Homo sapiens: one gene and its partners. The protein of the gene in region 1 interacts with the protein of each later gene in a pairwise test. Each region holds a gene or a part of one and is shown in the gene's direction. Other genes may lie near its edges.

The links.
Region 2: the proteins of SERTAD1 (region 1) and PBX4 interact in binary tests that used the Homo sapiens proteins (3 or more experiments, as listed by UniProt).
Region 3: the proteins of SERTAD1 (region 1) and CINP interact in binary tests that used the Homo sapiens proteins (3 or more experiments, as listed by UniProt).
Region 4: the proteins of SERTAD1 (region 1) and KLC4 interact in binary tests that used the Homo sapiens proteins (3 or more experiments, as listed by UniProt).

What each region holds. Positions count from the first base shown.
Region 1 is NC_000019.10:40,422,993-40,431,748, reverse strand, and holds the start of SERTAD1 (SERTA domain-containing protein 1), read left to right. Parts: upstream 1-5,756; 5' UTR 5,757-5,882; intron 5,883-8,202; coding exon 8,203-8,756. UniProt on the Homo sapiens protein: Acts at E2F-responsive promoters as coregulator to integrate signals provided by PHD- and/or bromodomain-containing transcription factors. Stimulates E2F1/TFDP1 transcriptional activity.
Region 2 is NC_000019.10:19,608,517-19,616,416, reverse strand, and holds part of PBX4 (pre-B-cell leukemia transcription factor 4), read left to right. Parts: intron 1-7,900.
Region 3 is NC_000014.9:102,352,676-102,360,575, reverse strand, and holds part of CINP (cyclin-dependent kinase 2-interacting protein), read left to right. Parts: intron 1-988; coding exon 989-1,157; intron 1,158-1,673; exon of another isoform or gene 1,674-1,777; intron 1,778-4,678; coding exon 4,679-4,808; intron 4,809-7,900. UniProt on the Homo sapiens protein: Component of the DNA replication complex, which interacts with two kinases, CDK2 and CDC7, thereby providing a functional and physical link between CDK2 and CDC7 during firing of the origins of replication.
Region 4 is NC_000006.12:43,068,974-43,075,836, forward strand, and holds the end of KLC4 (kinesin light chain 4), read left to right. Parts: intron 1-1,380; coding exon 1,381-1,482; intron 1,483-1,718; coding exon 1,719-1,892; intron 1,893-2,301; coding exon 2,302-2,401; intron 2,402-2,593; coding exon 2,594-2,646; intron 2,647-2,878; coding exon 2,879-2,949; intron 2,950-3,173; coding exon 3,174-3,282; intron 3,283-3,850; coding exon 3,851-3,991; intron 3,992-4,249; coding exon 4,250-4,365; intron 4,366-4,928; coding exon 4,929-4,992; intron 4,993-5,359; exon of another isoform or gene 5,360-5,648; coding exon 5,649-5,699; 3' UTR 5,700-6,120; downstream 6,121-6,863.

The sequences.
Region 1 (8,756 bases):
AGCGCAGCAGCAGCCTGATCCTGGCTCACTGCAACCTCTGTCTCCCAGGTTCAAGCGATCCTCCCACCTCAGCCTCTGAAGCAGCTGAAACTACAAGCATGAAGGAAAATTTCCTTTTCCTTCAGTGTATGACCTGGAGTAAGCCACTGGGAGACTCCAGGTCCAGGCGTCCCTTTTGCCAGCCATAAAAATGGATTCTGGAGGGCAGAAAATGTGAATTTGCCTAGTGGGGGCCTGGTTCTAATTAGCATCTTACCTTAATTTTATTATTAAAAATTCAAGCACATAGAAAAGATGGGGAAAAAAAGTATTCTGAGCATCTGAATACTATCTCACCTAGATTTATTTGATAGTTGTTGGACAGGGAACAACTATAATCCCAGTACTTTGTGAGGCCAAGGCAAGAGGGTCACTTGAGTCCAGGAGTTCAAGATCAGCCTGGGCAACATGGTAAGATCTCATCACTACAAAAAAATTTAAGAGCCAGGCGTGGACCGGGCATGGTGGCTTATGCCTGTAATCCCAGCACTTTGGGAGGCCGAGGCAGGCGGATCACCTGAGGTCAGAAGTTCAAGACCAGCCTGACCAACAGGGAGAAACCCCGTCTCTACTAAAAATACAAAATTGGTCAGGCGTGGTGGTGCATGCCTGTAATCGCAGCTACTCGGGAGGCTGAGGCAGGACAATTTCTTGAACCCAGGAGACAGAGGCTGTGGTGAGCCAAAACTGTGCCATTGCACTCCAGCCTGGGCAACAAGAGCGAAACTCCGTCTCAAAAAAAAAAAAAAAAATACTCGTCCCATAAACTGGCAATGAGACTTAACCTTCTTCAAGTAGCTCATTTGTTAATTCCTGAGCTGTGGGAAGAGCTTTTAGTTTTGAATAAAGCTCCTGGCCAAAGTAAGTTCTCAAAAATGCTAACTATGGTAGTTAATTCAGGCAGCAATTGTCAATGAATGCTCAAACAGTTGGGTGAAAAGTTAGTGGAAAACAGGATCTTTTGGGGTCTCACTCTTTCACCCAGGCTGGCGTGCACTAGTGCAATCATGGCTCACTGCAGCCTCAAACTCCTGGGCTCAAGTGATCCACCTCAACCTCCCAAGAAGCTGGGACTGCAGGTGCATGCCACCATGCTAGGATAAGTTTTTAAAAACAGTATTCTGTAGATAGTGCCACTGCACTCTAGCCTGGCGACAGAGCGAGACTCCGTCTCAAAAACAAACAAAACATAAACAAAAACCAGTATTTTGTGGAGATTGGGTCTTGCTGTGTTGCCCAGGCTAGTCTCAAACTCCTGGGCTCTGGCCAGGCACAGTGGCTCATGCCTGTAATCCCAGCACTTTGGGAGGGCGAGGTGGGTGGAGTTCGATACCAGCCTGACCAACATGTTGAAACCCCGTCTCTACTGAAAATACAAAAATTAGCCAGGCATGGTGGTGCACGCCTATAATCCCAGCTACCCAGGAGGCTGAGGCAGGAGAATAGTTCAACGCGGGAGGCGGAGGTTGCAGTGAGCTGAGATTGTGCTACTGCACTCCAGCCTGGGTGACAGAGACTCCATCCCCCCCCCCAAAAAAAAAAAGCCAGATGTGGTGGCTCACGCCTGTAATCCCAGCACTTTGGGAGGCCAAGGTGGCTCATGCCTGTAATCCCAGCACTTTGGGAGGCCAAAGTGGGCAGATCACCTGAGGTCAGGAGTTTGAGGCCAGCCTGGCTAACATGGTGAAACCCTGTCTCTACTAAACATACAAAAATTAGCCAGGCATAGTGGCATGCACCTGTATCCTAGCTACTCAGGAGGCTGAGGCAGGAGAATCCTTGAACCCGGGAGGCGGAAGTTGAAGTGAGCCAAGACCACGCCATTACACACCAGCCTGGGCGACAGAGCAAGACTCCATCTCAAAAAAAAAAAAAAAAAAAAAAAAAACTGGCCAAGTGCGGTGGCTCACGCCTGTAATCCCAGCACTTTGGGAGGCAAAGGCGGGCGGATCACGAGGTCAGGAGATTGAGACCATCCTGGCTAACATGGTGAAACCCCGTCTCTACTAAAAATACAAAAAAAAAAAAAAGGAAAAAAAATTAGCCGGGCGAGGTGGCGGGCACCTGTAGTCCCAGCTATTCAGGAGGCTGAGGCAGGAGAATGGCATGAACCCAGGAGGCGGAGCTTGCAGTGAGCCGAGATCGTGCCACTGCACTCCAGCCTGGGCGACAAAGTGAGACTCCGTCTCAAAAAAAAAAAAAAAAAAATCACAAAACCTCCTGGGCTTAAGTTCCCGCCTTGGCCTCCCAAAGTGCCAGCATTACAGGCATGAGCCACCACATACATCTTGGAGATAGGATCTTCACAGGCTCTAAAGCATCATCCCAAAGGTTATTTGCTAACTAGAAAGGATAAATTTATTTTACGATGTAACCCTCACAATCTTAATCACGTGATGAAACTCTGCATTACCAATGGTGGGACATCCTGACACTGGTGCCAACTACTATAATGCGTTAGGATTAGGAAGTACATTAATAAGGATTAGGACACACCCTGTGGAGTCTCCCTGTTCACTGCATAAGCAGAATCTCACCAGGCCCCTAGACCCAACCTCCAGCTTATTGGAAAAAGAGAGGAACAAATTAAACACAGTCAGACAAATCCAGAATGTGGGACACTATGCAGCATGACTAGTCTGTTTTGCCAGAAATTCAATGTCAACAAAACATCAAAAAGGATTTGAGGCTGAGTGTGGTGGCTCATGCCTGTAATCCCAGCACTTTGGGAGGCCAAAGCGGGTGGATCACCTGAGGTCAGGAGTTTGAGACCAGCCTGGCCAACATGGCGAAACCCTGTCTCTACTAAAAACACAAGAAAATTAGCCAGGCGTGGTGGCGCACGCCAATAATCCCAGCTACTCGGGAGGCTGAGGCAGGAGAATCACTTTAACCCGGAAATGGAGGTTGCAGTGAGCCAAGATCATGCCACTGCACTCCAGCCTGGGCGACAGAGCAAGACTCTGTCTCAAAAAAAAAAAAAAAAAAAAAAGGGATTTGGGTGGGGGAATATTCGAGAATAAAATATAGTATGTAATTTCTTCATTACAACCAAATTAGCATGTGAACCTTCATTGGATCCTGATTTTGGAGAAAAGAAAGCAACTATAAAGGATATTCTTGGGTCAGTTGGAGAGATTTGATTAGGTGATATTGTGGAATTCTTGATTCTATTAGATGTGAAATAGTATTTTTGTGGCTTGTACATGAATGTCCTTATTCTTTTTTTTTTTTAGGTGGAGTTTGCTCTTGTTGCCCAGGCTGGAGTGCAATGACGCAATCTCAGCTCACTGCAACCTCCACCTCCTGGGTTCAAGCAATTCTCCTGTCTCAGCCTCCTGAGTAGCTGGGATTACAGGCACATGCCACCATGCCCGGCTAATTTTTGTATTATTAGTAGAGACGGGGTTTCATCATATTGGTTAGCCTGGTCTCGAACTCCTGACCTCCGGTGATCCACTCGCCTTAGCCTCCCAAAGTGCTGGGATTACAGGTGTGAGCCAACGCACAGGGCCTAATGTCCTTATTCTTAAGAGATGCCTCCTGAGCTGTTAAGGGTAGAATATCAAGATGCTTGCAATTACTCTCCAAAGGTTTAGCAAAAGAAACAATATATACACATATGTAGATAAAGGGAACTTAGCACAATGTTACCAACTACTACTTTTTTCTTTTTTTTTTTTTTTGATACAGGGTCTTGTTCTGTTACTCAGACTAGAGTGCAGCGGCATGAACATGGCTCACTGCAGCCTTGACCTCCTGGGCTCAAGGAATCCTCCCACCTTAGCCCCACAAGCAGCTGGGACCACAAGAACATGCTACCACGCCTGGCTAATCCTTTTTTTTTTTTTTTTTTGAGACAGAGTCTTGCTCTGTTGCCCAGTCTGGAGTGCAGTGGCGCTGTCTTGGATCACTGCAACCTCTGCCTCCTGGGTTCAAGCTATTCTCCTGCCTCAGCCTCCTGAGTAGCTGGGATTACAGGCGCCTGCCACCACACCTGGCTGATTTTTTGTATTTTTAGTAGAGACAGGGTTTTACCATGTTGGCCAGGCTGGTCTCGAACTCCTGACCTCGTGATCTGCCCACCTCGGCCTCCCAAAATGCTGAGATTACAGGCGTGAGCCACCACGCCCGGCCCACGCCTGGCTAATTCTTAAATTTTTTTGTAGTGATGAGATCTCACTGTGTTGCCCAGGCTGGACTCAAGTGAACTCCTGGACTCAAGTGACCCTCCTGCCTTGGCCTCCCAAAGTACTGGATTACAGTTGTTGCCTAGCTAACAACTATCAATTAAATCTAGGTGAGAGAGTATTCAGGCGTGAGCCACTGCATCCGGCCATGGGAGGAGTATTATACCCTGTCTACCTCTAGCCCCATCCTGCATGTCTATCCACCTTGAACTAAGAGCTTGTCTTATTACAACAGCTATTACTACTAACAAAGAAACAACGTTGCTAACCAGGCATGGTGGTGTGCGCCTGTAGTCCCAGCTGCTTGGGGGTCTGAGGCAGGAGGATGGCTTGAACCTGGGAGGCTGCAGTGAGCCGAGATGGCACCCCTGCACTTCAGCCTGGGTGACAGAGCGAGACCCTGTCTCAAAAGCAAAATAAAATAAAATAAAAAGTAAAGAAAAAAATAATAAGCAGCTGGGCGCGGTAGCTCACGCCTGTAATCCCAACACTCAGGGGCCGAGGAGGGCGGATCACCTGAGGTGAGGAGTTTGAGACCTGCCTGGCTAACATGGTGAAACCCCATCTCTACTAAAAATACAAAAATTAACCGGGCGTGGTGGCGCACGCCTGTAGTCCCAGCTACTCGGGAGGCTGAGGCAGGATAATTGCTTGAACCTGGGAGGCGGAGGTTACAGTGAACCGAGATCGTGCCCCTGCACTCCAGCCTGGGCGACGGAGTGAGAATCTGTCTCAAATAAATAAATAAATAAATAAATAAAATGAAAAAAAAAAAAAAAACACAAAACATGTTGCACCCCACTCTGAAGATTTTTCATGAATTAATTTAATCCTTAAAAACAATCCTGTAAACTAGGCGCTATTTTCTCTCATTTTAAAGGAGAAACAGACCAGAAGGGATTAAAACACTTGCCGCAGGTCACACAGCTGCTTAGGGAATGGAGCCCGGGATGTGATTCCGTTGGTATCGCACTCCCACCTCACTCCCGCCTTTAACCACAATTAAGTCCAACTGTCCAGCATTGCTTGAGTGTGGTATTGTGTTCTTATAGATACGATCCTACTTAAAGTATCCTGTCAAGAGGTAGGCAAGACGATCCCCATTTAACTTTGTGTAGCTTGAAGAGGTTGATCATTTTTCCAAGGTCACGCATCCAGTGAGTGGGGAATCCGGAGTCGGAATTTGAACCCGGGCATTATCTGTAGTGTAGACCCCTGTCGGGGCTGGATGTGTAAGAAGCTTAATTGCCGGGTTTGGCAGGTGCATGGGTAGTTGTGAGGGGCTCGTATTTTGAGAGGCAAAAGCCCCCACTCGCCACCGTTCCCCGGAGTAAAAAGCCACCTCTTTCCACCCCTCACTCGCGCAGCTGCCCGGGCATGCGCCCTGAAGCCCCTCCTTCAGAATCCGCCCCCTACAAGCTCCGCCCATCACCATGCAGGGCCAATCCCTGGGGCGGAGGGCGGGGCAGCCACGAGAGTGGGCGGTCGCTAAGGGTAGTTAGGAGTCTGGAGTCGTGAGCCGGAGTCAGAACTGCGTCTCGCGACCCAGGCGCGGGTTTCCGGAGGACAGCCAACAAGCGATGCTGCCGCCGCCGTTTCCTGATTGGTTGTGGGTGGCTACCTCTTCGTTCTGATTGGCCGCTAGTGAGCAAGGTATGTAAATGAAGGGGCCTGGGAACAGAAGGGCTACCAGCGGCCGGGTCCTTCACAGAGTTCGATCCCTGGGTCCGACAGGTGCCCGCCGGGGCTGCCCGGGATCGAGACGCACGGACCTCTACGTGCTGTCTGCCCCGGCCGGGCCGGGTGAATCACGCCGCAGTCCGAGAAGGGGGCGGAGGCGCCGGCTTCTTGGCTCCGGCTGCGTGACTCACCCGCCCCCGCCGCCGCCGCTTCGGGAGGAGCCGCCTCCACTGCCGGAAGCGAGCGGAGGCCGGGCGCAGAGAACAGCCCGCCAGGGGTCCCGGCTCGCACGGCGCCGGGAGGCCGGCAGGAATCACAGCCGGGAATCGGGGCAGTAGAAGGGGTCCTGGGGTCAGAGGGGCCAGAATCCCCGGGGGAAAGCCGGCCTGGGCACCGCTAGGGGGCGCCGGGACCCGGGGGCGGAGTCGGGGGTGGGGGCGGAATTCCTGCGGTTCCGGACTCCCCGGACTGCGGGGAAGGGGACGAAGACCCTGTTTTGAGTAGTGTGGTGGGCCATTCTTAAAATCTTGCTAGGCAGGGTTCCGAAACTGGACTCTACAGTCTTCCTGGCCCAAAAAAGTAGGTAGCGCCAGGAGTCCAAAACTCCAGCCCTACCCCCGCCACTCCAAGAACAGTGGACCCTCAAACTTATCTCAGTGACTGAACCCGGTGCCGATCACGATTTCCCGACAAGCCCTGTCTATTCTGCCTCCCAAATAAGTCCTGACTCGACCGACTTCCTTCCATGCCACTACCAGCTCCTACTCCAGGCCATCACCATCGTCCGTCCCAAACGAGTACAGCCTACCAGTGGGTCTCAGATCCCCCCTCTTTTTGCCCCCCACAGTCTTCCTCGAAGCAGCCATGGGGGGGATCTTCCGGAAACCTAATCAGCTCACAGCACCATTCCCTCCCTGCTCAAATTCCTTTAATGACTGCCCACCACACTCAGGATAAAATCCAAACTCCCTACTTCTGCATATGTGGCTTTCTGTGACCTGGCTTGTGCCCGTTCCCCTAGCTGCTCCCCAATCTGGTCTCCTACCATGTCACTCTCTGTGTGCCACCCATGCTGGTCTCTTTCCAGTTCAAGCCCATCCAGCCTCTGGGCTTTTCTCTGCCTTTTTTTGTTGTTCCCTCCTCCCGGAATGCTTTTCCCAGGGTCTCCCATGGCTGACTTCTCTGGCCTGAGGGCTCCATTCAAATGTCACCTCCTTACAGGAGCCTTCTCTGATGATCTAAAAGGTCTCTAGGAACTTTTAGTGTCTTCCTGTAATTCTCTGTACATTTCCTGTGTTTCCTTATTTATTTACTGTTTGAAACATAGTCATAGTAGACAATAAATATTAAACTACGTGAAACTAGTTTAGTATTTATAATATTATAACTTATTTAGATATAATTATGTTATTATAATAAAATATGTGAAACAGCTGCTTTTGTAGGGGAAAAAGTTGAATATTGGCCATTCCACATGGTTCACTGAAGAAATAATAATGTTATCATTAAGTGTACTTATTGGCAGGGTGAGGCAGCTCACACTTGTAATCTCAGTACTTTGGGAGGCTGAGGAAGGAGGATGGCTTGAGGCAAGGAGTTTGAGACCACCCTGGGCAACATAGTGAGACCATGTCTCTACAAAAAAATAAAAGGGAAAAAAAAAAGTACTTATTGACTGAGGGGGGAGGATCGCTTCAGGCCAGGAGTTTGAGACCAGCCTGGGCAATATAGTGAGACCCCATCTTTATTTTTTCAGATAAAAAAGTCTATAAATATACTTAAATATAAAATTTAAAATTTAAGAAGTCTATAGGCCAGGCGCGGTGGCTCACGCATGTAATCCCAGCACTTTGTGAGGCAGAGGTGGGCGGATCACTTGAGGTCCAGGAGGTCGAGACCAGCCTGGCCAACATGGTGAAACCATGCTTCTTCTAAAAATATAAAAATTAGCCGGGTGTGGTGGCATGTGCCTGTAATCCTAGCTTTTGGGGAGGCTGAGGCACGAGAATCATTTGAACCTGTGAGGCAGAGGTTGCAATGAGCTGAGATCACGGCATTACACTCCAGCCTGGGCAACAGAGCGAGACTCCATCTCAAAAAAAATCTATAAATATACATATACAGTTAAATAAAAATTGTCTATATCTTTAAAGTTCCCTAAGAAAAGCTAGGCACAGAGAGGTTAAGTGACTTCCCCAAGATCCTACCTGCAGCAACTGTCAGATCCAGGCTTTGAACTTAACATTTGTTTTCTATAACTGACTATAACTCCATAACTCCCTGCCCTCTGCAGATGCTGAGCAAGGGTCTGAAGCGGAAACGGGAGGAGGAGGAGGAGAAGGAACCTCTGGCAGTCGACTCCTGGTGGCTAGATCCTGGCCACACAGCGGTGGCACAGGCACCCCCGGCCGTGGCCTCTAGCTCCCTCTTTGACCTCTCAGTGCTCAAGCTCCACCACAGCCTGCAGCAGAGTGAGCCGGACCTGCGGCACCTGGTGCTGGTCGTGAACACTCTGCGGCGCATCCAGGCGTCCATGGCACCCGCGGCTGCCCTGCCACCTGTGCCTAGCCCACCTGCAGCCCCCAGTGTGGCTGACAACTTACTGGCAAGCTCGGACGCTGCCCTTTCAGCCTCCATGGCCAGCCTCCTGGAGGACCTCAGCCACATTGAGGGCCTGAGTCAGGCTCCCCAACCCTTGGCAGACGAGGGGCCACCAGGCCGTAGCATCGGGGGAGCAGCGCCCAGCCTGGGTGCCTTGGACCTGCTGGGCCCAGCCACTGGCTGTCTACTGGACGATGGGCTTGAGGGCCTGTTTGAGGATATTGACACCTCTATGTATGACAATGA
Region 2 (7,900 bases), about 21 Mb from region 1:
TGAATCCAGGAGGTGCCTGGGTTCAAGCGCCACTGCATTCCAACCTGGGCGACAGAGTGAGACTCTGTCTCCATAAAAAAATAGTTTTGTTTTTGTCATCTGGATAACAATCAATAGGGAGTTCGGACTATTTATTCCAGTTGCAATGGGGAAAAATAAAGGAGTTTTTAGACCTCCCATCCCGTTTACCTCCACTCACCACTTGTCAGCCAGCCAGGATCCGTAGAATCTGCTTCACAAGGCAGCCCACTGTGTCTGGGTCCTGCAGTGATTATTACAGAAAAGGAAAGGAAAGGACTGAAGTCCTTTTGGAGGATGAGGCCTTGTTGAATGGGGACTGTTGTAAGGTGAGGGACGGTCTCTGGGTATGGGACTAGGGTCTGGTGGTGTGGACTGTGTACCCACTAGAGCCCTGTAGTGGGGAGGGGTTACAAAGCCAGGTAAACAGCAGTCCTAGGAAGGAAGAGGCAGATAAAAAGGTGGATAATGCATGCATTTGTTCTTCAATGAATTGTGTGTGTGTGTGTGTGACGGACTCTCACTCTGTTGCCCAGGCTGGAGTGCAGTGGCGCTATCTCGGCTCACTGCAACCTCTGCCTCCCGGGTTCAAGCGATTCTCCTGCCTCAGCTTCCTGAGTAGCCGGGACTACAGGCATACGCCCCATGCGTGGCTAGTTTTGTATTTTTAGTAGAGATGGGGTTTCACCGTGTTGGCCAGGCTGGTCACAAATTCCTGACCTTAGGTGATCTGCCTACCTCAGCCTCCCAAAGTGCTGGGATTACAGGCGTGAACTACTGTGCCTGGCCTGTTCTTCAATGAATTTTTAACAAATTTGGCCGATATTTATCGGACCTTTACAATATCTGGGTACTGAACTGGGTTCTGGCATAGCTCTCAAGTTCTTCCTGCTCTCAAGTTCATGGTTTGGGGAGAGAAAGTAAATTTGTTCTTCAAACTTTCTTTCCTTTGCTTCTCAGGGAATGTTGACACTTTTTGTAGTTTCAGATGCTCTGTTTGAGAAATTAGAGTCCTTGTCACCATACAACTATTTCTTTGGCTTTTTTTTTTTTATATAAGGCCGCGCTCTGTCACCCAGGCTAGAGTGCAGTAGTGTCATCATGACTCACTGCAGCCTCAACCTTCTGGGCCCAAGCAATCTTCACACCTCAGCTTCTTGAGTAGCTAGGACCACAGGCCTGTGCCACCACGCCTGGCTAATCTTTCTTTTTTTTTTTTTTTTTTTTTTTTTTGGAGACAGGGTCTCACTCTGTCACCCAGACTGGAGTGCAGTGGTGCAGTCTCAGCTCACTGCAACCTCTGCCTCCCAGGCTCAAGCAATTCTCCTGCCTCAGCCTCCTGAGTAGCTGGGATTACAGGCGTGTGCCACTACCGCCTGGCTAATTTTTTTTTGTATTTTTAGTAGAGACAGGGTTTCACCGTATTGGCTAGGCTGGTGTTGAACTCCTGACCTCAAATGATCCACCCACCTCGGCCTCCCAAAGTGCTGGGATTACAGCCCTGAGCCACCACACCTGGACTAATCTTTCTATTTTTTTAGGTCTCCCTATGTTGGCCAGGCTGGTCTCAAACTCCTGAGTTAAGAAATCCTCCCGCCTCAGCCTTCCAAAGGTCGAGGATTTCAAACATGAGCCACTGAGCCTGGCTCCTCCAACTGTTTTCATTGTGGTTTTTTGTTTGTTTGTTTGTTTTTGTTTGTTTGTTTGGCTGTTTTTTGGTTTGGTTTGGGTTTTTTTGAGACGGAGTCTCATACTCTGTTGTCCAGGCTGGAGTGCAGTGGCGCGATCAGGCTGGAGTGCAGTGGCGCGATCTCGGCTAGTGAGCAACCTCCGCCTCCCGGGTTCAAGTGATTCTCCCATCTCAGTTTCCCAAGTAGCTGGGATTACAGGTGTGCACCACCACACCTGGCTAGTTTTTTGTATTTTTAATAGAGATGGGGTTTCACCATGTTGGCCAGGCTGGTCTCAAACTCCCGACCTCAGATGATCTACCCGCCTTGGCCTCTCAAAGTGTTGGGATTACAGGCGTGAGCCACTGCGCCGGGCCATGTTTGTTTGTTTGTTTTTGAGACAGGGTCTTATTCTGTCACCCAGGCTGGAGTGCTGTGGTATGATCTCAACTCACTACAACCTCTGCTTCCCAGGTTCAAGTGATTCTCCAGCCTCAGTCTCCCAAGTAGCTGGGACTACAGCCTCAAACCACCAATGAATGGCTGGCTAATTTTTGTATTTTTTGTGGAGATGGGGTTTCACCATGTTGTCCAGGCTGGTCTTGAACTCCTGAGCTCAAGTGATTCACCCATCTTGGCCTCCCAGAGTGCTGGGATGACAGACGTGAACCAGTGTTTTTATTCTTTTTGGAGCATTGTACCAGGTGCTAGAGAAACCAAGATGGCTAAGATGTTCTCTGCCTTCTTGGAGCCCACTGAGAAGTAGGGTGTGTGGGAGACCAACTTGTAAATAATTGTTATAACAGGAATGTGCTGTGTAGAGGTAATTCCTAGCACAGAAGAGCTGTGCCAGGAGAGGGTGCCTTCCGTGATGTCTGTTAGGCTAGTCGGAGAGCAGTGGCTTTATTATACTTTGTGTTCCCAGAGCCAGGATCAATGCCTAGCACCTTGCATTCAGTAGTTTCATGACACTGAGGAGATTCTAGAGGGATTAGTAGGAGTTGGGAAAGGGGGAAGATGGTTTTGACACACCCAGGAATGTCACCGCAGAGGCAGAGCTTTGGGTGTGTCCTGGAAGCTACTTTTGTACTTTCCAGACCGGGATATTGCTGCTTAAGGGGTGAGCTCTGCTCAGATGTGGCCTTCCTCAGGCCCAGCACAGCCCCAGGGCTGCTGCATTTTCCTTGCAGCAATCTCCTGAGATTCTAGTTTCCCTAGACAGGCTTTAGATTTAGAATGGAATGCAGCCAGTTACTTTTTTTTTTTTTTTTTTTTTTTTTTTTGAGACAGAGTCTCGCTCTGGCGTGTTCTTGGCTCACTGCAACTTCTGCCTCCTGGGTTCAAGAGATTCTCCTGCCTCAGCCTCCCGAGTAGCTAAGATTACAGGCGCCTGCCACCACGCCCGGCTAATTTTGGTATTTTTTTAGTAGAGACGGGGTTTTGCCATGTTGGCCAGGCTGCTCTCAAACTCCTGACCTCAGGTGATCCTCCCACCTCGGCCTCCCAAAGTGCTGGGATTACAGGCATAAACCACCACGCCCTGCCAGCCAGTTACTTCTTTACCATTTTCAAAGATAGCTCTTTTTGTTTTAAGGCTAAGAAATTAGGCTGGGTGCAGTGGCTCACGCCTGTAATCCCAGCACTTTGGGAGGCCGAGGCAGGAGGATCACCTGAGCTCAGGACTTCGAGACCAGCCTGTGCAACGTGGAGAAACCCCACCTCTACTAAAAATACAAAAATTAGCTGGGCATGATGATGCCCACCTGTAGTATGTGTCAGCTACTGAGGAGGCTGAGGCAGGAGAACCGATTGAACCCTGGAGACGGAGGTTGCAGTGAGCCGAGATCGTGCCACTGCACTCCAGCCTGGATGACAGAGAAAAAAAAAAAAGAAATTAAATGGTGTGGTGGGGGGCGTTATTCATGCTTGATAACACAGGTGTTAGGTAGCTGGTTCCTGGTTTCTGGCCTCTTTCTGAATTGGGATGACCCCCGGGGCTTTTATTTCGAGACTTTGAAGCTTCAAATCTCCCTCATTTCTTTGGACCTAGCCTTTAGATGAACTCAAAGCCCTAAAGTTCACTCAAGTCCAGACAAAAATCATCCATCCTCAAATGGGCTATTTCCACCCCTCTGGAGGAAATACAGCTCCTCACAGTAAACCCTGCAGCCTGGTAGATTACCAACCTGGGCTGGGAAGCAGATTGTCTCTTCTGATCAACTGATCCTGTGAGGCTTTTGAAAATCTTTCTGATCCTGCCCACTCTCAATGTGCCAGTCACCCCTTTTATCACCCCAGCAGTCAGTTGAACTCAACTGTTTAGCAAGAAGGAATTTTTCATCTCAGTCGTGAGGCCCTCTGAACATGTTTTGTTGCCGTAAGTTTGTTTTCAGAAGGAAAATATAGCTCTCTCTTCAAACCTGGGTTTTTTGTTTTGTTTTGTTTTTTTCTTGAGACAGAGTCTCACTCTGTTGCCCTCGCTGGGATACAGTGGTGCGATCTCAGTTCACTGCAACCCTCGTCTCATGGGTTCAAGCAATTCTGCCTCAGCCTCCCGAGTAGTTGGGATTACAGGTGTGTACAGGTATGCACCACCATGCCCGGCTTAATTTTTGTATTTTTAGTAGAGACACAGTTTCACCATGTTGGCCAAGCTGGTCTAGAACTCCTGGCTTCAGGTGATCTGCCTGCCTCAGCCTCCCAAAGTGCAGGGATTACAGGCATGAGCCACTGTGCCTGGCCTTAACATTTTTTTGTAGATACAGAGTCTCACTATGTTGCCCAGGCTGGTTTTGAACTCCTGGGCTCAAGCTGTCCTCCTGCCTCAGCCTCCCAAAATGCTGGGACTACAGTCATGAGCCATCCCACCCATTCTAAATGCTCACTGTTATAATGTTTTAGGAGCAAGCAGTGTGGTGTGTGAGATGGCATACCTAAAACCAAAAATGTATTTGGAAGTTGGTTTTAGGCAACCCAGCAATGCCTGCATAGGTTTTCTTAGGAAGAAAACATATCTCTGAACTTTTCTTTCTTTTTTTTTTTTTTTTTTTGAGACAGAATCTCACCCTGTCACCCAGGCTGGAATGCAGTGGCATGATCTCGGCTCACTGCAACCTCTGCCCCCTGGGTTCAAGTGATTCTCCTGCCTCAGCCTCCCAAGTAGCTGGGATTACAGGCACCTGCCATTGCACCAGGCTATTTTTTGTATTTTTAGTAGAGACGGGGTTTCACCATCTTGGCCAGGCTGGTCTTGAACTCCTGACCTCATGATCTGCCCGCCTCGGCCTCCCAAAGTGCTGGGATTACAGGTGTGAGCCACCATGCCCGGCCTTCTCTTTTTAATTTGATTTTTACTATTATGACCTCAACTAGTAGAGATTTGCATAACTTTCTTAGTCCCTCCAATATTTCTGCAGATTGACTTTGCCTAGATATGGATTAAATTCCTATTATGAAGGGGAGATAATGAAGTGATTTTGACTATCCTTTAAACTTACTGAAGAGGCAAGGTGTGAACTGATACCTGAAATGTGTTCCCCTAGGCTTGGTACTTTTGCAATAGTGAATATAAGGTCAGAACACATATACTTATAAAGTATGTATACTTATGTATGTTCTGACCTTATATTCATACATAGTTATAAAGCATGTCAGTGAGCATTCAGCCTTCCGCACACCCATTCAAAGAATGCAAGGGTTCTAGGGGGAATTTATGATGTGGAATTTCCCAGAGCCAGATAGCATTAGCATGAGAGGATCTATCAGTCCAAACCTGGGAAGTAGGATTTCATATTTAAAATTTTCTTTTTCAGTATCCCTAAAGAGATTAATTAGATGCCAGTTGACTTCGTGCCTTGTAGTCTTTCTTCTTAGCTTGCTTGCAGGCTTAGCTTGACTTGGTCTAGTGCCAGAGGAGTCTTGCTGTCTTTGGTGTACTTTTCCTAAGAGTTGAATTGTGTTGGTTTTTGTTGTTTGACACAGAGTCTTGCTCTATCACCCAGGCTGGAGTGCAGTGGCGTAATCTCGGCTCACTGCAACCTCCACCTCCCAAGTTCAAGTGATTCTCATGCCTCAGCCTCCTGATTAGCTAGGATTACATGCATGCGCCAGCCACCACACCCGGCTAATTTTCATATTTTTAGTTGAAACGAGGTTTCACCATGTTGGGCAGGCTGGTCTTGAACTCCTGACCTCAAATGATTATCCCGCCTCGGATTCCCCAAAGTGCTGAGATTACAGGTGTGAGCCACTTTGCCCAGCTTGAATTGTGTTGTTTTTATTTTTTTGTAAGTTTTTTAAATTTTTTATTGTTTTCGAGATGGAGTTTCACTCTTGTTACCCAGGCTGGAGTGCAATGGCACAATCTCTGCTCACCGCAACCTCCACCTCCCGGGTTCAAACAATTCTCCTGCCTCAGCCTTCCGAGTAGCTGGGATTCCAGGCACGTGCCACCACACCCAGCTAATTTTGTATTTTCAGTAGAGACGAGGTTTCTCCATGTTGTTCAGGCTGGTCTCGAACTCCCAACCTCAGGTGATCCGCCCGTCTCAGCCTCCCAAAGTGGTGGGATTACAGACGTGAGCCACCGTGCCTGGCAAATTGTGTTAGTTTTAAAACAATTCCCTGAAGCTATCTAAAAGTCTTTTGGCAAAATCCCCTTTGAAATAGCTTTATTAATGAAAAGTAAAGCCATGTGTAGAATTTCACAAAGGAGCAAGTACCACTCACTCATTTAAATGACAGCTACCGAGTGCCTCTATCAGAACACAGTGGTTGATGATGATGACAATAAGGATTTCCCTCATTTACCCCTCCCCAGAACCCTAGGAAGTGGGTGGTTTTTCACTGTTTGTTTTTCTTTCTTTCTTTAGTTTTTTTGAGACGGAGTCTCGCTGTGTCGCCCAGGCTGGAGTGTGGTGGCGCAATCTCGGCTCACTGCAAGCTCCGCCCCCCGGGTTCACGCCATTCTCCTGCCTCAGCCTCCCGAGTAGCTGGGAATACAGGCACCCGCCACCACGCCCGGCTAATTTTTTTGTATTTTTAGTAGAGACCGGGTTTCACCGTGTGAGCCAGGATGGTCTCGATCTCCTGAGCTCGTGATCTGCCCTCCTCGGCCTGCCAAAGTGCTGGGATTACAGGCGTGAATCACTGCGCCTGGCTCTTTTTTTTTTTTTTTTTTCATATGGATTTTTGCTCTTGTTGCCCAGGCTGGAGTGCAATGGCGCGATTTCGGCTCACCACAACTTCCGCCTCCCGGGTTCAAGCGATTCTCCTGCCTCAGCCTCCCAAGTAGCTGGGATTACAGGCATGCACCACCACGCCTGGCTAATTTTGTATTTTTAGTAGAGACGGGGTTTCTCCATGTTGGTCAGGCTGGTCTCCAACTCCTGACCTCAGGTGATCCACCCGCCTCAGCCTCCCAAAGTGCTGGGATTACAGGTGTGAGCTACTGCGCCTGGCTCTTCACTGTGTTTCTAGATAAGGAATCAAGTGGCCAGATAACTGGAGGGTAGTTGGATGGAGATTTGGGCATGCTCTATTGAACTCTGAGGCTGTACTGCCTGCCACCTGTCTCTGCTTTTCCCAGGGATCCTACAAAACTCACTTAAATCTGACATCGCTTCCTGCTCAGAGGAGCCCAGCTGATTGGGTGCCGTGGGAGATCAGACAGTCAGGCTCGGGCTTTACAGGACACTTTTAAAAGTACATTCTCGCAAATTAAATGTCATCTACTCAATAAACATGTATTTTGTGCCAGGTCTGGTGCTGGGCTTGGGAATGCAGCAGTGAGTTCTGAAAGGAGATTCATTATTTGGAGAGGCAGACATTGGAGAGTGCGGTGACACGGGGACCAGAGAGGGCAATGAGGAGTTAGCCCTTCAGCAAGACTAGAGCTTGTAGAGCATGGGCAATCAGAGTGCATGACTCTGGAGTCTAGGTGAAGTCAGGCGGGGGACAAGGAGCCTTGAGGAGATGGCCAAGATCTGGACTTGAGGCTTTGCCTAGGCAAAGAAAGTGGATGCGGCATTGTAGGCTTGGTGCAAGCATGCATGCAAGGCAGGCGTGGAGCATGAAGGCATGCATTGTGGTCCCATCGGGCATGAGTGGTGGGCGTGACCTTGGAAGGGAGACTCGGGGGTGACTGCCTGCCTCAGCTGCTGTCCGACCAAGCATGGCCTTGAACTCCTTGCCAGGTAAGGAGTGAGCACGCG
Region 3 (7,900 bases), on another chromosome or scaffold:
CATTAAGTTGCCCAAGATCTCACAGCTGGCGAGCTGGGGTTCAGACGCAGGCAGTGTGGTCTTCTGACTTGAGGCATCAAACCATCCAGCTGTTGTGTGTCCTGGATTCCTCAAGAGGACTTTATCCTGTGGGCAGTGAGAAGCCTTTGTGGGGTTCAAAGTAGAGAAGGCAAGAGGGCACAGGAGGGTTCGGGGAGAACAAACAACCTGAGTTGGCTCTTGGTGGTCTGGGGGTTGCTTCCTACAGGCAGTGGGATCCGGGTGCATCTTGGAGGATGGGCATCGTGAGCCTGAGGAAGGAAGGAGCTTTCCTGCAGAGAGAACACGTGTAAAGGCCTGCAGGCACCTCAGCTTTTCAAGAGCTGCCAGTAGTTCATTTTCGCTGGATATTGACGGGGGGCCAAGGTGTGGGTTGATGTACGTGATGATGTGGAGGGGTAGCTAGGTCTGGAAGGATTTTGGACTTCCTCCTGATTACCAAGAAGGGCAGTGGCAGCATCGTGATCAACTCTGCATCTCTGTTGTCTCAGTGTCTTGAAATGATTAGCACTCATGGGCCACGCTACTCTGAGCAAATTTAAAGTATCAGAGTGCCTGAGACTAGATAGTGGAAGTACTCGGGAGTCAGGGCTAGATTATCCTGTAGGGAAGGGAACGTGAGCCATTGAAGAGTTTTAGCAGACAGTCACAACTTTACCTTATTTCCAATCTTTGGAAAACAAAGGGCTTAAGGTAAAAACTTTGTGGAGCCATTAAGCTGGAAGAGGATTCAGCTCTATCTGGTGAATTTTAAAATGTTAAAAATATTCTATATTGTCTTCTTCCAGGAACTTTCACATTCATTCAGACTTTGTAGTTTCCACATTTATTTGTCCAGTTGATACAGCATTTCAGATAGTTTTACTGTTGAAAATTATAAGGACATTTGCCCTCCAACTATGATTGTATATTCCATGATAATAATTTTGTTTCTTTTATACCCTATCAGCAAAGACTCTTGGAACTGTAACGCCCAGAAAACCTGTCTTATCTGTCAGTGCAAGAAAAATTAAGGACAATGCGGCTGATTGGCACAATTTAATCCTGAAGTGGGAAACCCTCAATGATGCAGGTTTTACCACTGCAAATAATATTGCCAACTTGAAAATCAGTTTATTGTAAGTACATATTGGTTTTTCATGCTCTAAGTTTTTCACCCTTAATAACTGGGGAAATAATGTGAATAAATTTTAAAATAAAATATTAAGCAAAAAAAGCAAGTGGTAAGATGATACGTGTAAGTATAAATTGTATTGTACATTTTAAATACAAAATTATATTCCATATATATATATATATATATATATATTTAGTTATTTATTTATTTATTTTTTTGGAGATGAAGTCTCACTCTGTTGCCTAGGCTGGAGTGTGATGGCGCGATCTCAGCTCACTGCAACCTCTACCGCCTGGGTTCAAGCAATTCTCCTACCTCAGCCTCCGGAGTAGCTGGGATTACAGGCGCCCGTCACCACACCCAGATAATTTTTGTATTTTTAGTAGAGACGGGCTTTCACCATGTTAGGCTGGTCTCGAACTCCTGACCTTACGTGATCCACCTGCCTCAGCCTCCCAAAGTGCTGTGTGAGCCACCGTGCCTGGCTATTCTGATTTTTAAAACCACAGATTCTTTGATTCTTTTGTAGTTCATAGGCATAATGATTGGGTTTTCATGCTCATGTATGACCTGTGCCTTCCTCAAACTTTGCTATGATGTTGGCACATTACCTAGCTGATATGGAAAAAACTACCATGAATTCTTTTCATCCATTTTTGGATTTTACGTAAACAAAAAACATATGTTATTGTTTCCTTTATATCTCACTTTCTTTTTCTATTTTTTATTTTTTATTTTTGGAGACGAGTCTCACTCTATCCCCCAGGCTGGAGTGCAATGGCGTGATCTTGGCTCACTCTAACTTCTGCCTGTCAGGTTCAAGTGGTTCTCCTGTCTCAGCCTCCTGAGTAGCTAGAATTACAGATACCTGCCACCATGCCCGGCTAATTTTTGTATGTTTAGTAGAGACAGAGTTTCACCATGTTGGCCAGGCTAGTCTCAAACTCCTGACCTCAAGTGATCTGCCCACCTTGGCCTCCCTAAATGCCGGTATTACAGGCATGAGCCACTGCGCCCAGCCATGTCTCACTGTCTTTCAACATGGAAGCCATGCGTGTAATGTAGAGCCACTATTCTGGTTCTGTTCTTTCTCATTGCTGTTTAATAGTGTTTACCCACATTAGACCTCTCACACTGGTTTATCAACTAAGTTATATAATATTCTCAATCTTTTGTTGTCATTTCAACAGTGTGCACAGTGTCTTTCCCAGGAATAGATTCCATCTCAAGAAACCACCTTCTTTGCTCATCCATAAGAAACAATTCCTTATCTGTTCAAGTTTTCTCATGAGATTGCAGCAATTCAGTTCCATCTTCAGACCCCACTTCCAGTTCTGGTTCTCTTGCTTTTTCCACTGGCAGAGTAGATTTAACATCATTCTTAAGGGCCCTAGGAATTTGAGAATGGTAAATGAGCATTGGATTCAACTTAAAGTCACTAACTGCAATATCCCCTAATAAGAGGGTGAGCCTGTCTCTTGAAGCTTTGAAGCCTGTCATTGACTTCTCTGTAGTTGTGAATGTCTTGGATGGCATGTTCTTCTAATAGAAGGCTGTTTCATCTACACTGAAAATCTGTTGTATCATGTAGCCACCTTCATCACTGATCTTAAGTAGATCTTCTGGATAACTTGCTCCAGCTTCTACATTAGCGCTTGCAGCTTCACCTTGCACTTTTATGTTATGGAGATGGCTTTTGTCCTTAAACCTCATGAACCAAATCCTGCTATCTCAAACTTTTCTTCTGTAACTTCCTCATATCTCTCAGCCTTCACAGAATTGAAGAGAGTTAGGGTCCTGCTGTGGATTAGGCTTTGACTTAAGGGAATGCTGTGTCTGGTTTGATCTTCTATCCAGACCACTCAAACTTTCTCCATATCCACACTAAGGCTGTTTCACTCATCATTCACATGTTCACTGGAGTAGCACCTTTAATTTTCTTCAGTAACTTTTCCTTTGCCTTCACAACTTGGCCAACTGTTTGGCACAAGAGGCCTGGTTTTCAGCTTATCTTAGCTTTTTTTTTTTTTTTTTTGTAGAGATGGAGTCTCGCTCTGTCGCTCAGGCTGGAGTGCAATGGTGCAATCTTGGCTCACTGCAACCTCTGCCTCCCGGGTTCAAGCAATTCTCCTGCCTTTGCCTCCCAAGTAGCTGGGACTACAGGTGCACACCGCCACGCCCAGCTAATTTCTTTTGTATTTTAGTAGAGACGGAGTTTCACATGTTGCCCAGGCTGGTCTTGAATTCCTGAGCTCAGGCAATCTGCCCGCCTTGGCCTCCCAAAGTGCTAGGATTACAGGCGTGAGCCACCGCACCTGGCCCCTTATCTGAGCTTTTGACATGCCTTCCTCACTAAGCTTAATCATTTCTAGCTTTTAATTTTTTTGTTTCTTAAATTGGCCAAAGTATAGCTTTTGATTTAAAATGAGAGATATGCAACTCTTCCTTTCACTTGTACACTTAGAGGCCAATGTAGGGCTATTAATTGGGTTGATTTCAGTATCCTCCTATTTCAGGGAACAGGGAGGCCCAAGGAGATGGGGAGAAAGGGGAGCAGCCGGTCAGTGGAGCAGTCAGAACACACAACATCCATTCATTAAGCTTGCCGTTATATATGCACATGGTTCATGGCACCTCAAAACAATTAAACTAGCAATATCAAAGATTACCAATCACAGATCATAGACATAATAATGAAAAAGTTTGAAATATTGTAAGAATTACCAAAATATGATAGAGAGACATGAAGTAAGCACATGCTGTTGGCAAAATGGTGCTGATTGACTTGCTCTACATACAGAGGGTTGCCACAAACCTTCAATTTGTAAAAAATGCATTATCTATGAAACTGAATAAGGTGAAGCACAATAAAATGAGGCGTGCCTATATTCCTGGATTGTGAACTCTTTGAGGAAATGATCCATGTCTTATTCATCTTTGTACATCCAGCACCATGCCCTATGCCAAGGATGCCACACCGCTGAATGGTGTTTTTTTTTTTTTTGAGACAGTCTTGCTCTTTTGTGCAGGCTGAGTGCAGTGGTGCTATAATGGCTCACTGCAGCCTTGACTTCCTGGGCTTAAGTGATCCTCCCACCTGAGCCTCCTAAGTAGCTGGGACCACATACGTGTCCCACCATGCCCAGCTAATTTTTACTTTTAATTTTTGTGGAGATGAGGTCTCACTGTGTTGCCCAGGCTGGACTCAGACTCCTGGACTCAAGCAGTCCTCCCGCGTCCATCCCTCAAAGTGTTGGGATTACAGGCATGAGCCACCAAAACCGGCTGTCACATGGCTGAATTTAACTGACTTATTTTGGTGCAAAATTGAGTGACCAATGGACATATTCATTGCACATATAAATAATAACTGCATTTGTATCATAATGATATGAAAGAACAATGCTTATGCAAAATGTCCCACGTAACTATGTGGATATAGAGGTTTGTAGAATTTATTATAAGGAAATAAGGCAAGCTTAAAGAGTATATTTTGTACACATTATTTTCTATTTTGTTTAGGAATAAAGACAAGATAGAACTAGACAGCAGCAGCCCAGCCTCGAAGGAAAATGAAGAAAAGGTGTGTCTGGAATATAACGAGGAACTGGAGAAGCTGTGTGAGGAACTGCAGGCCACCTTGGATGGGTTGGTAAGACATAAAGACGCAGGCCACTTGTGGTCACTGTCACTGAATCCGATGGACGTATTTGGGGTTTGCTTGACCATTGGCCATCACTTACTCCTTCTCAGTCTCCTCTGATGTTCTCTTCCTCTGCCTGCTGCGTAAACCTTAATGTTCCCCAAGATGCTGTCTTAGACACTCACTCCTCCTGTGCGTCATCCGGGGAAATGTCACCCACTTTCAGGGCTCATCACATAGTAAATTTTTTTTTTTTTTCCATGATATGGAGTCTTGCTTTGTCGCCCAGGCTGGAGTGCAATGGCGTGATCTTGGCTCACCGCAAACTCCGCCTCCTGGGCTCAAGCGATTCTCCTGTCTCAGCCTCCAGAGTAGCTGGGACTACAGGCGTCCGCCACCATGCCTGGCTAATTTTTGCATTTTTAGTTGAGACAGGGTTTCACCATATTGGTCAGGCTGATCTCAAACTCCTGACCTCAGGTGATCCACCTGCTGGCCTCCCAAAGGGCTGGGATTACAGGCATGAGCTACCACGCCCAGCCACAGAGTAAATATTTTAGGCTTCCAGGGCCAGCCAGTCTCTATCTCAGCTACTCATCTCTGCCACATAGGACTAAACAGCCATAGATAATATATGCGTAAATGGATGTGGCTGCATTCCATGAAAACTTTATCTTTGTTTTTTGGATTTTCTTTTTTTTTTTTTTTGAGATGGAGTCTCATTCTGATACCCAGGGTGGAGTACAGTAGCATGATCTTGGCTCACTGCAAACTCCGCCTCCCAGGTACAAGTGATTCTGCTGCCTTAGCCTCCCAGGTAGCTGGGATTACAGGCTCGTGCCACCACATGAGCTAATTTTTGTATTTTTAGTAGAGACAGCATTTCACCATGTTGACCAGGCTGGTCTCGAACTCCTGACCTCAAGTGATCAGCCTGCCTTGGCCTCCCAAACTGCTGGGATTACAGGCGTGAGTCACCGCACCTGGCCTTTTTTGTTTTTGTTTTTGTTTTTTTTGAGACAGGGCCTCACTCTGCCACTGAGGCTGGATGGAGTGCAGTGGCGAGATCTTGGCTCACTGCAACCTCCGCCTCCTGGGTTCAAGCAATTCTTGTGCCTCAACCTTCCACATAGCTGGGATCGCAGGTGTGCGCCACCATGCCCAGCTAATTGTTGTATTTTTAGTAGAGATGGGGTTTCACCATGTTGGCCAGGCTGGTCTCGAAGTCCTGGCCTCAAGTGATCCACCCACCTCAGCCTCCCAAAGTGTTGGGATTACAGGCGTGAGCCACCATGTTCGTCCAGGAAATCTTTATCTTTGGACACCGAAATTAGAATTTTGTATAATTTTTATGAGTCACAATCACTATTGTCCTTTTGGTTATTTTCAACCATTTAAAAATGTAAAAACCATCTTAGCTTATGGGCCATACAGAAATAGGCTATGGGCCAGAATTGACCTGTGTTCCAGGGATAGTTTGCCCATCCCTGATACAGCACGTAAGAGACTAAAGTGTTTGTTTAATGAACTAATAACTAAATTTCAATACCTACCATACTGGCCACCAGATGTGAAGATAACACCACCTTATTTCTTTGCTAGGCACAGGAAATCAGGTTTTACACATATTTGAACTTGGATAACTGAAGCTTACCCATAAACATTTAAGATCTTTATATTTTCACCTTTTTGTTTGTTTGGAGACAAGGTCTCGCTGTGGAATGCAGTAGTATGATCACAGCTCACTGCAGCCTTTACTTCCTGGGCTTAAGTGATCTTCTTGCCTCAGCCTCCCGAGTAGCTGGGACTACAAGCATGAACCATCATGCCCGGCTAATTTTTAAAATTCGTTTGTACAGACGGGGTTCTCATGTTGGCCAGGCTGGTCTCGAACTCCTGACATGAAGTGATCTTCCCACCTTGGCCTCCCAAAGTGCTGGGATCACAGGTGTGAGCCCTGGCGCCCTGCCTTAGCTTTTCCGTCATGTCTTGTTTTGGCTTCAGGATCCTGTATGACATCGAGTCCCCTTGTTTCCTCAGGCTCCTTTTGGCCGTGACAGTTTCTCAGACTTCCCTGTTTTTGATGACTTTGACAATGTTGAGGGATACTGGTCAGGTATTTTGTAGAACATCATGAGATTTATCTGATGTTTTTCTCCTAATTAGACTGAGGTTACGGGTTTTGTTCAGAGGAGGACCACAGAAGTAAAGTGCCATTTCTATCATGTCATATCAAGGGCACGTACTGGATATACTGTCATCAGGACTTTTCTTTGGGTCCCACCTATTGCCCGGGCTGGTCTCAAACTCCTGGGCTCAAGCAGTGCTCCCACCTCAGCCTCCCAAAGTGCTGGGATTCCAGGCGTGAGCCACTGTGCACAGCCAGGACTTTCCACTGCTGAAGTTGACCTTGATCACCTGGCTGGGCAGTGTTTCCAGGTTCCTCTGCTGTGACGTTGCTCTTTCTCCTCCTCCCACGCTGTGCTCTTTGGCAGGAAGTCACTATGCATAGCCCACACCTGGGGGTAGGGACGTATTCACCACCTGCTTGAGGGTGCAGTATCTACATAAATTATTTGGAATTATTCTGCGTGGGAGATTTGTTCCCTCCCTCCCATTTGTTAATTTTTTTTTTTTTTGAGATGGAGTTTCACTCTTGTTGCCCAGGCTGGAGTGCAGTGGGGTGATCTCTGCCCACTGCAACCTCTGCCTCCTGGGTTCAAGTGATTCTCCTGTCTCAGCTTCCCAAGTAGCTGGGATTACAGGTGCCTGCCACCACACCCAGCTAATTGTTGTATTTTTATTTGTTTTTTTTTAATTTTTGTTTTGGCCAGGCGCAGTGGCTCATGCCTGTAATCCCAGCACTCTAGGAGGCCGAGGCAGGTGGATCACCTGAGGTCAAGAGTTTGAGACCAGCATGGCCAACATAGTGAAACCCCATCTCTACTAAAAATACAAAAAATTAGCTGGGGGTGGTGGCAGGTGCCTGCAATCCCAGCTACTTGGGAGGCTGAGGCGGGAGAATCACTTTCGGAGGTTGCAGTTAGCCGAGATCAAGCCACTGCACTCCAGTCTGGGCCACAGAGTGAGACTCCGTGTCA
Region 4 (6,863 bases), on another chromosome or scaffold:
GGCATGCACCTGTAGTCCCAGGTACTCGGGAGGCTGAGACAGGAGAATTGCTTGAACCCAGGAGGCTGAGGTTGCAGTGAGCCAAGATCGCACCATTGCACTTCAACCTGGGTGATGGGGTGAGACTTCATCTTAAAATAAATAAATAAATAAATAAATATAAATAAAAGGAAAGAGAGAAACAACCTTAAGTAGAGATATCACGCCAAGGCAAATGATAGAGTTGTCAATGTACAGAAAATGAAAAATGAAAAGTTTGTTTGTTTTGTTTTGTTTTGTTTTGTTTTTTGAGATGGAGTTTCGCAGTGTCACCCAGCCTATAGTGCAGTGGTACAATCTGGGTTCACTGTAATCTCTGCCTCCCAGGCTCAAGTGATCCTCCTGCCTCAGCCTCCCAAGTAGCTGGGATTACAGGTACGTGCTACCACGCCAGGCTAATTTTTGTATTTTTAGTAGAGATGGGTTTTCACCATGTTGGTCAGGCTGGTCTTGAACTCCTGACCTCAAGTGATCCACCTACCTCAGCCTTCCAAACTGCTGGGATTACAGGTGTGAGCCACCACACCCAGCTGAAAAGTTATTTATTTTTTGTTGAGATAGAGTTTCACTCTTGTTGCCAGGCTAGAGTGCAACATGGCACGATCTTGGCTCACTACAACCTCCACCTCCCGGGTTCAAGCAATTCTCCTGCCTCAGCCTCCCGAGTAGCTGGGATTACAGACATGCCACTACGCCTGGCTAATTTTGTACTTTTAGTAGAGACGGGGTTTCTCCATGTTGGTCAGGCTGGTCTCGAACTCCTGACCTCAGGTGATCCGCCCACCTCGGCCTCCCAAAGTGCTGGGATTACAGGCGTGAGCCACTGCGTCCAGCCAAAAAGCTATTTTTGAATGTGATCTGTGTGAAAATAATTCCCTATGGTATGACATATGATAGGCAGGGATGATGTATCTCAGAAATCATACTCCTGTCTTGATATCCCATCAAATATCAATGTTTACATTTAGCGTTTGGATGTCTGGCAGGACATTAAAAAATTGGCAGAGCTGTCCCACACATGCAGAACATCTATAGCGTTCTTGCCTCCTCAAAGGTAATCTTCATGGTGACAACAACAACAACAAAAAAAAAAAAAAAAGAAAGAAAAAAAACACCTCCAGAAATTTCTTAAAATCCCCTAGAGGGCGATACTGTCCCTTAGCCTCAGAGCCATCCTGTTCAGCAATTTCCCCTCCCTTCAGCCCCTGGCTCCAGGGTAGTAGACTTTGTCTCTTAGAGTTGTGCAGTGAGTGTTGGGCCCTGCTGGGAGGTGGGGAACCTCAGATTCCCATAGGTCTTTTGCAACCCAAATGTCTGATGGGGACAGGCCTGTCTTCATAGGTGGCTGCCACACTCAACAATTTGGCTGTGCTCTATGGCAAAAGGGGCAAGTACAAGGAGGCAGAGCCTCTGTGCCAGCGGGCACTGGAGATTCGAGAAAAGGTACCCATGCCCTCTCTCCCTTCTTCTCTTGTCGCTGTGACCCTTCTCTACATGGCTCCTCTGGTCTAACCCTCCTCCTTCACTTTTTTTTTCTCACCCCCATCTCTGCTTTGTTCTCTCTTCCTTCATTCCCTTTCCTCTGCTTTCCACATGTGTGTGCCTACATGCAAACACACGTGTGCTTGTGCACACACATGTTATCATAGCCATTTATCCACTCCTTTGTTCCCTTTCAGGTCCTGGGCACGAATCATCCAGATGTGGCAAAACAGCTGAACAACCTGGCCCTCTTGTGCCAAAACCAGGGCAAGTATGAGGCCGTGGAACGCTACTACCAGCGAGCACTGGCCATCTACGAGGGGCAGCTGGGGCCGGACAACCCTAATGTAGCCCGGACCAAGAACAACCTGGTATGGGAGGAGGGACAAAGTAGGTGGAAGAAACGGAGAGGGGGGCACAGAGGTGGGGGGAGGGGGGGCAGGCGGAGAGGCCACTTGGGTCCTAGAGTCAGGAAGCATCACAGTCTGGCACACTGCTCTCATCAACTTTGTGCTCATGTCTGGGGCTGCCTTTGCGGATGAAGGATCTGCTTCATTCCAGTTATAGAAGTTCCACAGCTTCTTGGGAGTGGGCTGGGAATACCCTTGACCCTACACCTGGAGAAGGAGGTGTGAGAAAGATCTCTGGGGAAAGTGAGAGAGACACTGAGAAGTGGAACTCCCTGAGCCTGGTGAAGACCTTGTCTAAAAAAAAAAAAAAAAAAAAGACCTTGCCTCCCTCCATGTTTTGTTCCTGTATTTTTGCCTTTCTGTCCTCCAGGCTTCCTGTTACCTGAAACAGGGCAAATATGCTGAGGCTGAGACACTATACAAAGAGATCCTGACCCGTGCCCATGTACAGGAGTTTGGGTCTGTGGATGGTGAGTGGTGAGGGCCTGGGGAAGGGGCTGTGGGGAAGAAAAGAAATTCAGACCAAAGGTCGGGGGTTAGGCCACAGCGGTTCCCAGGGGGAGCCAGACCCCTTCAGTCCAGCCTGTCAGCCTCTGGGTCCTGGCTCTCCGACACTGTCTAGCTCCCATCTCTAACCTCCCCACCCCATGTATCACCCCTAGATGACCACAAGCCCATCTGGATGCATGCAGAGGAGCGGGAGGAAATGAGCAAAGTGAGTGGGGGGAAGGGGGGCCAGCCTGGGGAGCTCAAGGCTACCGGGGTCTCTGTCTTACTCCTTGCATTAGCCCAACTCTCACTTCCCATCCCAGCACCAGCCCCAGATGCATGGTGTCCTCCCCAGCCCAGCCTGCACCCTAGCCCCATGCCACCTTGCATCTCAGCATCTCTGTATTCTTATATTTGGCTCTCCCTGCCCTTCTTTCTGGCCTCTCTCTGTCCTGCAGAGCCGGCACCATGAGGGTGGGACACCCTATGCTGAGTATGGAGGCTGGTACAAGGCCTGCAAAGTGAGCAGGTGAGCTGACAGTGAAAAGCCAGCTTGGCCTCCGATGCCCTCCATCCAGTCCCTGCTCCCAGCCTCCCAGACCTTTTCCCTTCCTCCCGTAGACTTTCCCTCAGCTTTAGCTCTGTTCCCTCTCCTATTTTCTTATTTTTTTTCCTCTTGTCTTGCTTGGAAGACAAATGTTTTGTTTTCTGAACTCATTCTCTCTTCCTTCTCTGGTCTCTTTCTCACCACAGCCCCACAGTGAACACTACTCTGAGAAACCTGGGAGCTCTGTATAGGCGCCAGGGAAAGCTGGAGGCTGCTGAGACCCTGGAGGAATGTGCCCTGCGGTCCCGGAGACAGGTCAGAAGCCCAGAGGGGAAGGAGGTCCTAGAGGGAAGGGCCCTGGGGATGAGAGAGTGCCGAGGTTTCTTGGGAGTCTCCTAAGAATAAGCGGAAAGGCTGATGAAGCCAGGAGGGAGAGGAAAGTGAGGCAGTGTTGTGATTGTGGTTGTTTTTAAGCATGTTCTTACCCCCCACCTGCATTTTGTGGTCAGGACTCTAGTTTCAAGATTCACTAAATGGGGATATGAAGGAGAAACCCTGCCCTTTCATAAGGAGGGGACCTGGGTGGTATGGGTGAGAGGAGTGAGGTTGGGGAGAGCCTAAATCAAGAATTTCTTAGATTGTGGGTCTCAATAGTAGGTTGTGAAATCAATTCAGTATGGGCCATGGGGATAAAAATATATACAGATCTATATATAGCAATGCATTGCAAATAGAAAAGGTAAGTATTATTCCAGTAGGTATAAACTGAGACATCACAAGGAAAAATGTTTTCCTTCCAGTGGCTGATGGTGAAAAAAATTTGAAAGCCCCATCCTGAGGAGTTAAGGAGTAGGAAGTCCCAGGTCCTTCCTTTTCCTTCCAGGGCACTGACCCTATCAGCCAGACGAAGGTGGCAGAGCTGCTTGGGGAGAGTGATGGTAGAAGGACCTCCCAGGAGGGCCCTGGAGACAGTGTGAAATTCGAGGGAGGTGAAGATGCTTCTGTGGCTGTGGAGTGGTCCGGGGTAAGTCTGATCATTGCCTTTTCATCTCTCCTGCCCACTCCTGCTGGTGGTGGTGAGAGGCTCTTGGCCATGCTGTCCCAGTCTAGGTAGTGTATTCCTTCAGGGGTATCTCTGGGAGCCAGTTTTTGACAGGACTTTTATTTCCAGTCACTGGGCCTTGGGGGTGGGGGATGTGTGCAGAATAAATGCTAGGAGTAGACTCAGAAACCCATCTGTGTGGGATCCTTGTAGCTTTCATTGCTCACTCCTTTCTGCCAGGATGGCAGTGGGACCCTGCAGAGGAGTGGCTCTCTTGGCAAGATCCGGGATGTGCTCCGCAGAAGCAGTGAACTCTTGGTGAGGAAGCTCCAGGGGACTGAGCCTCGGCCCTCCAGGTATACATGGAAGTCAAGATACAGTAAAGTGGCCGGGTGCAGTGGCTCACGCCTGTAATCCCAGCACTTTGGGAGGCCGAGGCGGGTGGATCACCTGAGGTCAGGAGTTTGAGACCAGCCTGGCCAACAAGGTGAAACTCTCTCCTAAAAATACAAAAATTAGTCGGGTGTGGTGGCAGGTGCCTGTAATCTCAGCTACTTGGGAGGCTGAGGCAGGAGAATTGCTGGAACCCAGGAGGCAGAGGTTGCAGGGAGCCAAGATCATGCCATTGCACTCCAGCCCAGGCGACAACAGCGAGACTCCGTCTCAAAAAAAAAAAGAAAAAAAAAAAAGATATGGTAAAGCAGGCAAGTAAAGTAAGCCCTTGCCTCCAACTCCTCTTGGCTCCTGATCTCTGGAGAAGTATCTCGGAGAGAAACAGGGAGGAAGTCAACGGGCCAGCCATGGAGAGAGAGTTTGGGTAGAATGGGTGCCCCAGTGTGGCAGTGCTCAAGAGGCCCACAGCCTTAAGGCCACTCAGGAGGAAGAGAGGAGGCCTCAATTCTTCCGTTTTCCATTGTAGCAGCAACATGAAGCGAGCAGCCTCCTTGAACTATCTGAACCAACCTAGTGCAGCACCCCTCCAGGTGAGAGCAGTGCTTGTGAGCATATTGGTGGGTGAGGAAAAAAGGACAGCCAGTGAGCAAGCCCAGTGGAGTAAGGGAAGAGGGAAGGGAGAGGAGTCATCTGGGATGAAGATGAGCCAGGGGATTGCAGTCATTAAGGAATCAGGCAGATAGCTTGTGGTGAGTGCTGACCACCAAGGGACAGTTTCAGGCCAGACATAGTAGCAAATAAGTTAATAAGGAGGGAAATAGGAATATTCTGTAAACTGGTACTTTGGAATTATGAATAATTTAAGAATTATTTGGAGATACGAATTATTTTTTCATCCTGCAGCCGCCTTAGTAGTAGATGAGAATGGAAAAAGAAAAGTATTAAATAATCCCCATCTGAGAAAACACTAGTGATATTTTAATGGCAAATGACTTCTTGTATCAACACACAAGTATATGCCAGTATTCATGTGGTTCTTCCAGGTAGCTTCTCCACCAGATTGTGGCCTTCTGGAAAACCCTAGCAGAGGCTAAACAAAGTCCCAGGTCCAGAGATAGACTGGTCCAGAGACAGATGTGATCCTAGGTCCAGAGATACACTGTGACCATGGGATGGATGGACTCTAGGAGCCAGTCTTTGGGAGGCCGAGGTCCCTGAGCTGATGGGGTAGTGTTGTCTGTTTCAGGTCTCCCGGGGCCTCAGTGCCAGCACCATGGACCTCTCTTCAAGCAGCTGACATTCAACCCGGCCCCCAGGTCTGCTGGGTCCCCCCACCCCCACAGCCCTCACAGCATTCCCCATTGCTCCTGGCTCTTCCCCACCCCTAGGTGGGACAGTGAAGGGGAGCAGTTTAACCAGAAGATTGCTGCTGCCCTTAGGGTCTCAGCTCCCTCCTCAGGAATCCCTCTTAGGAAGGACCCTCAGGACACCCTCTCTGCACCCTGTGGTCCTCTAGAGTAGCTAGCTCTGAGGCCCCAAGGTGGGTACAAAGCAGGTATGGCCCTCAGAGATGCAGCCTGCTGCTGGCTTTTCAGTCAGAGGGTTGGGGGCTGGCCAGCCAAGCTGCCTTGCCCTGGCCGCTCTTACTCCCTCCCTCTGCTGTCTCACTTCAGGTCCATGTATTTCACTTTTCTTAAATAAAAGAATCAGGTAACCTTTCTGTGACTTGAGTCCTGATTGAAGAGGGTATGAAGCAGGGCTTGTGTTGGGGCCCTTCACAGAAGGTGAGGGGCAGTGATGGATGGAGCAGCAGGAGGAGTGTTGATTCTTGGATCTCTCCTCTCTTCCTCCCGTTGTTTGTATCATCTCCAGCAGGGCCTGTAGGAAGGCATCTGGGGGATGGGGAAGAAGGAGGCTCACAACCCAAGGAGAAGGTGCTGTGGACTGGGTTGTCAGGGACATGTGGTGGCCATGTGGCAGGACCCTGGAGTCCTGGCGCCACTTCTCCTGGCTGTGAGGCCCTCTGTGGCTGCCATTCCTCCTCCCAGCTGCTTGGGGGAAGGGAGGTCTAAACAGGCCTGGGGGGCCCTCCGGAACCAGAGGGGAGACAAGGCACTATCCATCCCCTCTCAGCATATCTTGGAGGCCTGAGCAGCAGCTGGGGCCCATCTTCTAAAGCTTGACTCCTCCTGACCCGCCTCCTACACCCCTTGCTGCTTTCACAACAAAGAAAGAATGTGGGGGTGGTGGCGCTGGGGGTGGGGGTGCCTGGAACAAGGGTTGTGCTGGGCCTCCCCACAGCTGGAGACTTGGCCATACCCTGACACAGCCCAGACTGCCTGGAGATGGACTTGGGATGAATTTGTCAGTTAGCAGACTTCAGCCTGGCTTTCAGAGCCCAGCGTGTTTCTACCTTTGGGTTCAGATTGGTCTACAGCCAAACCAGACCCCAGTCATGCAC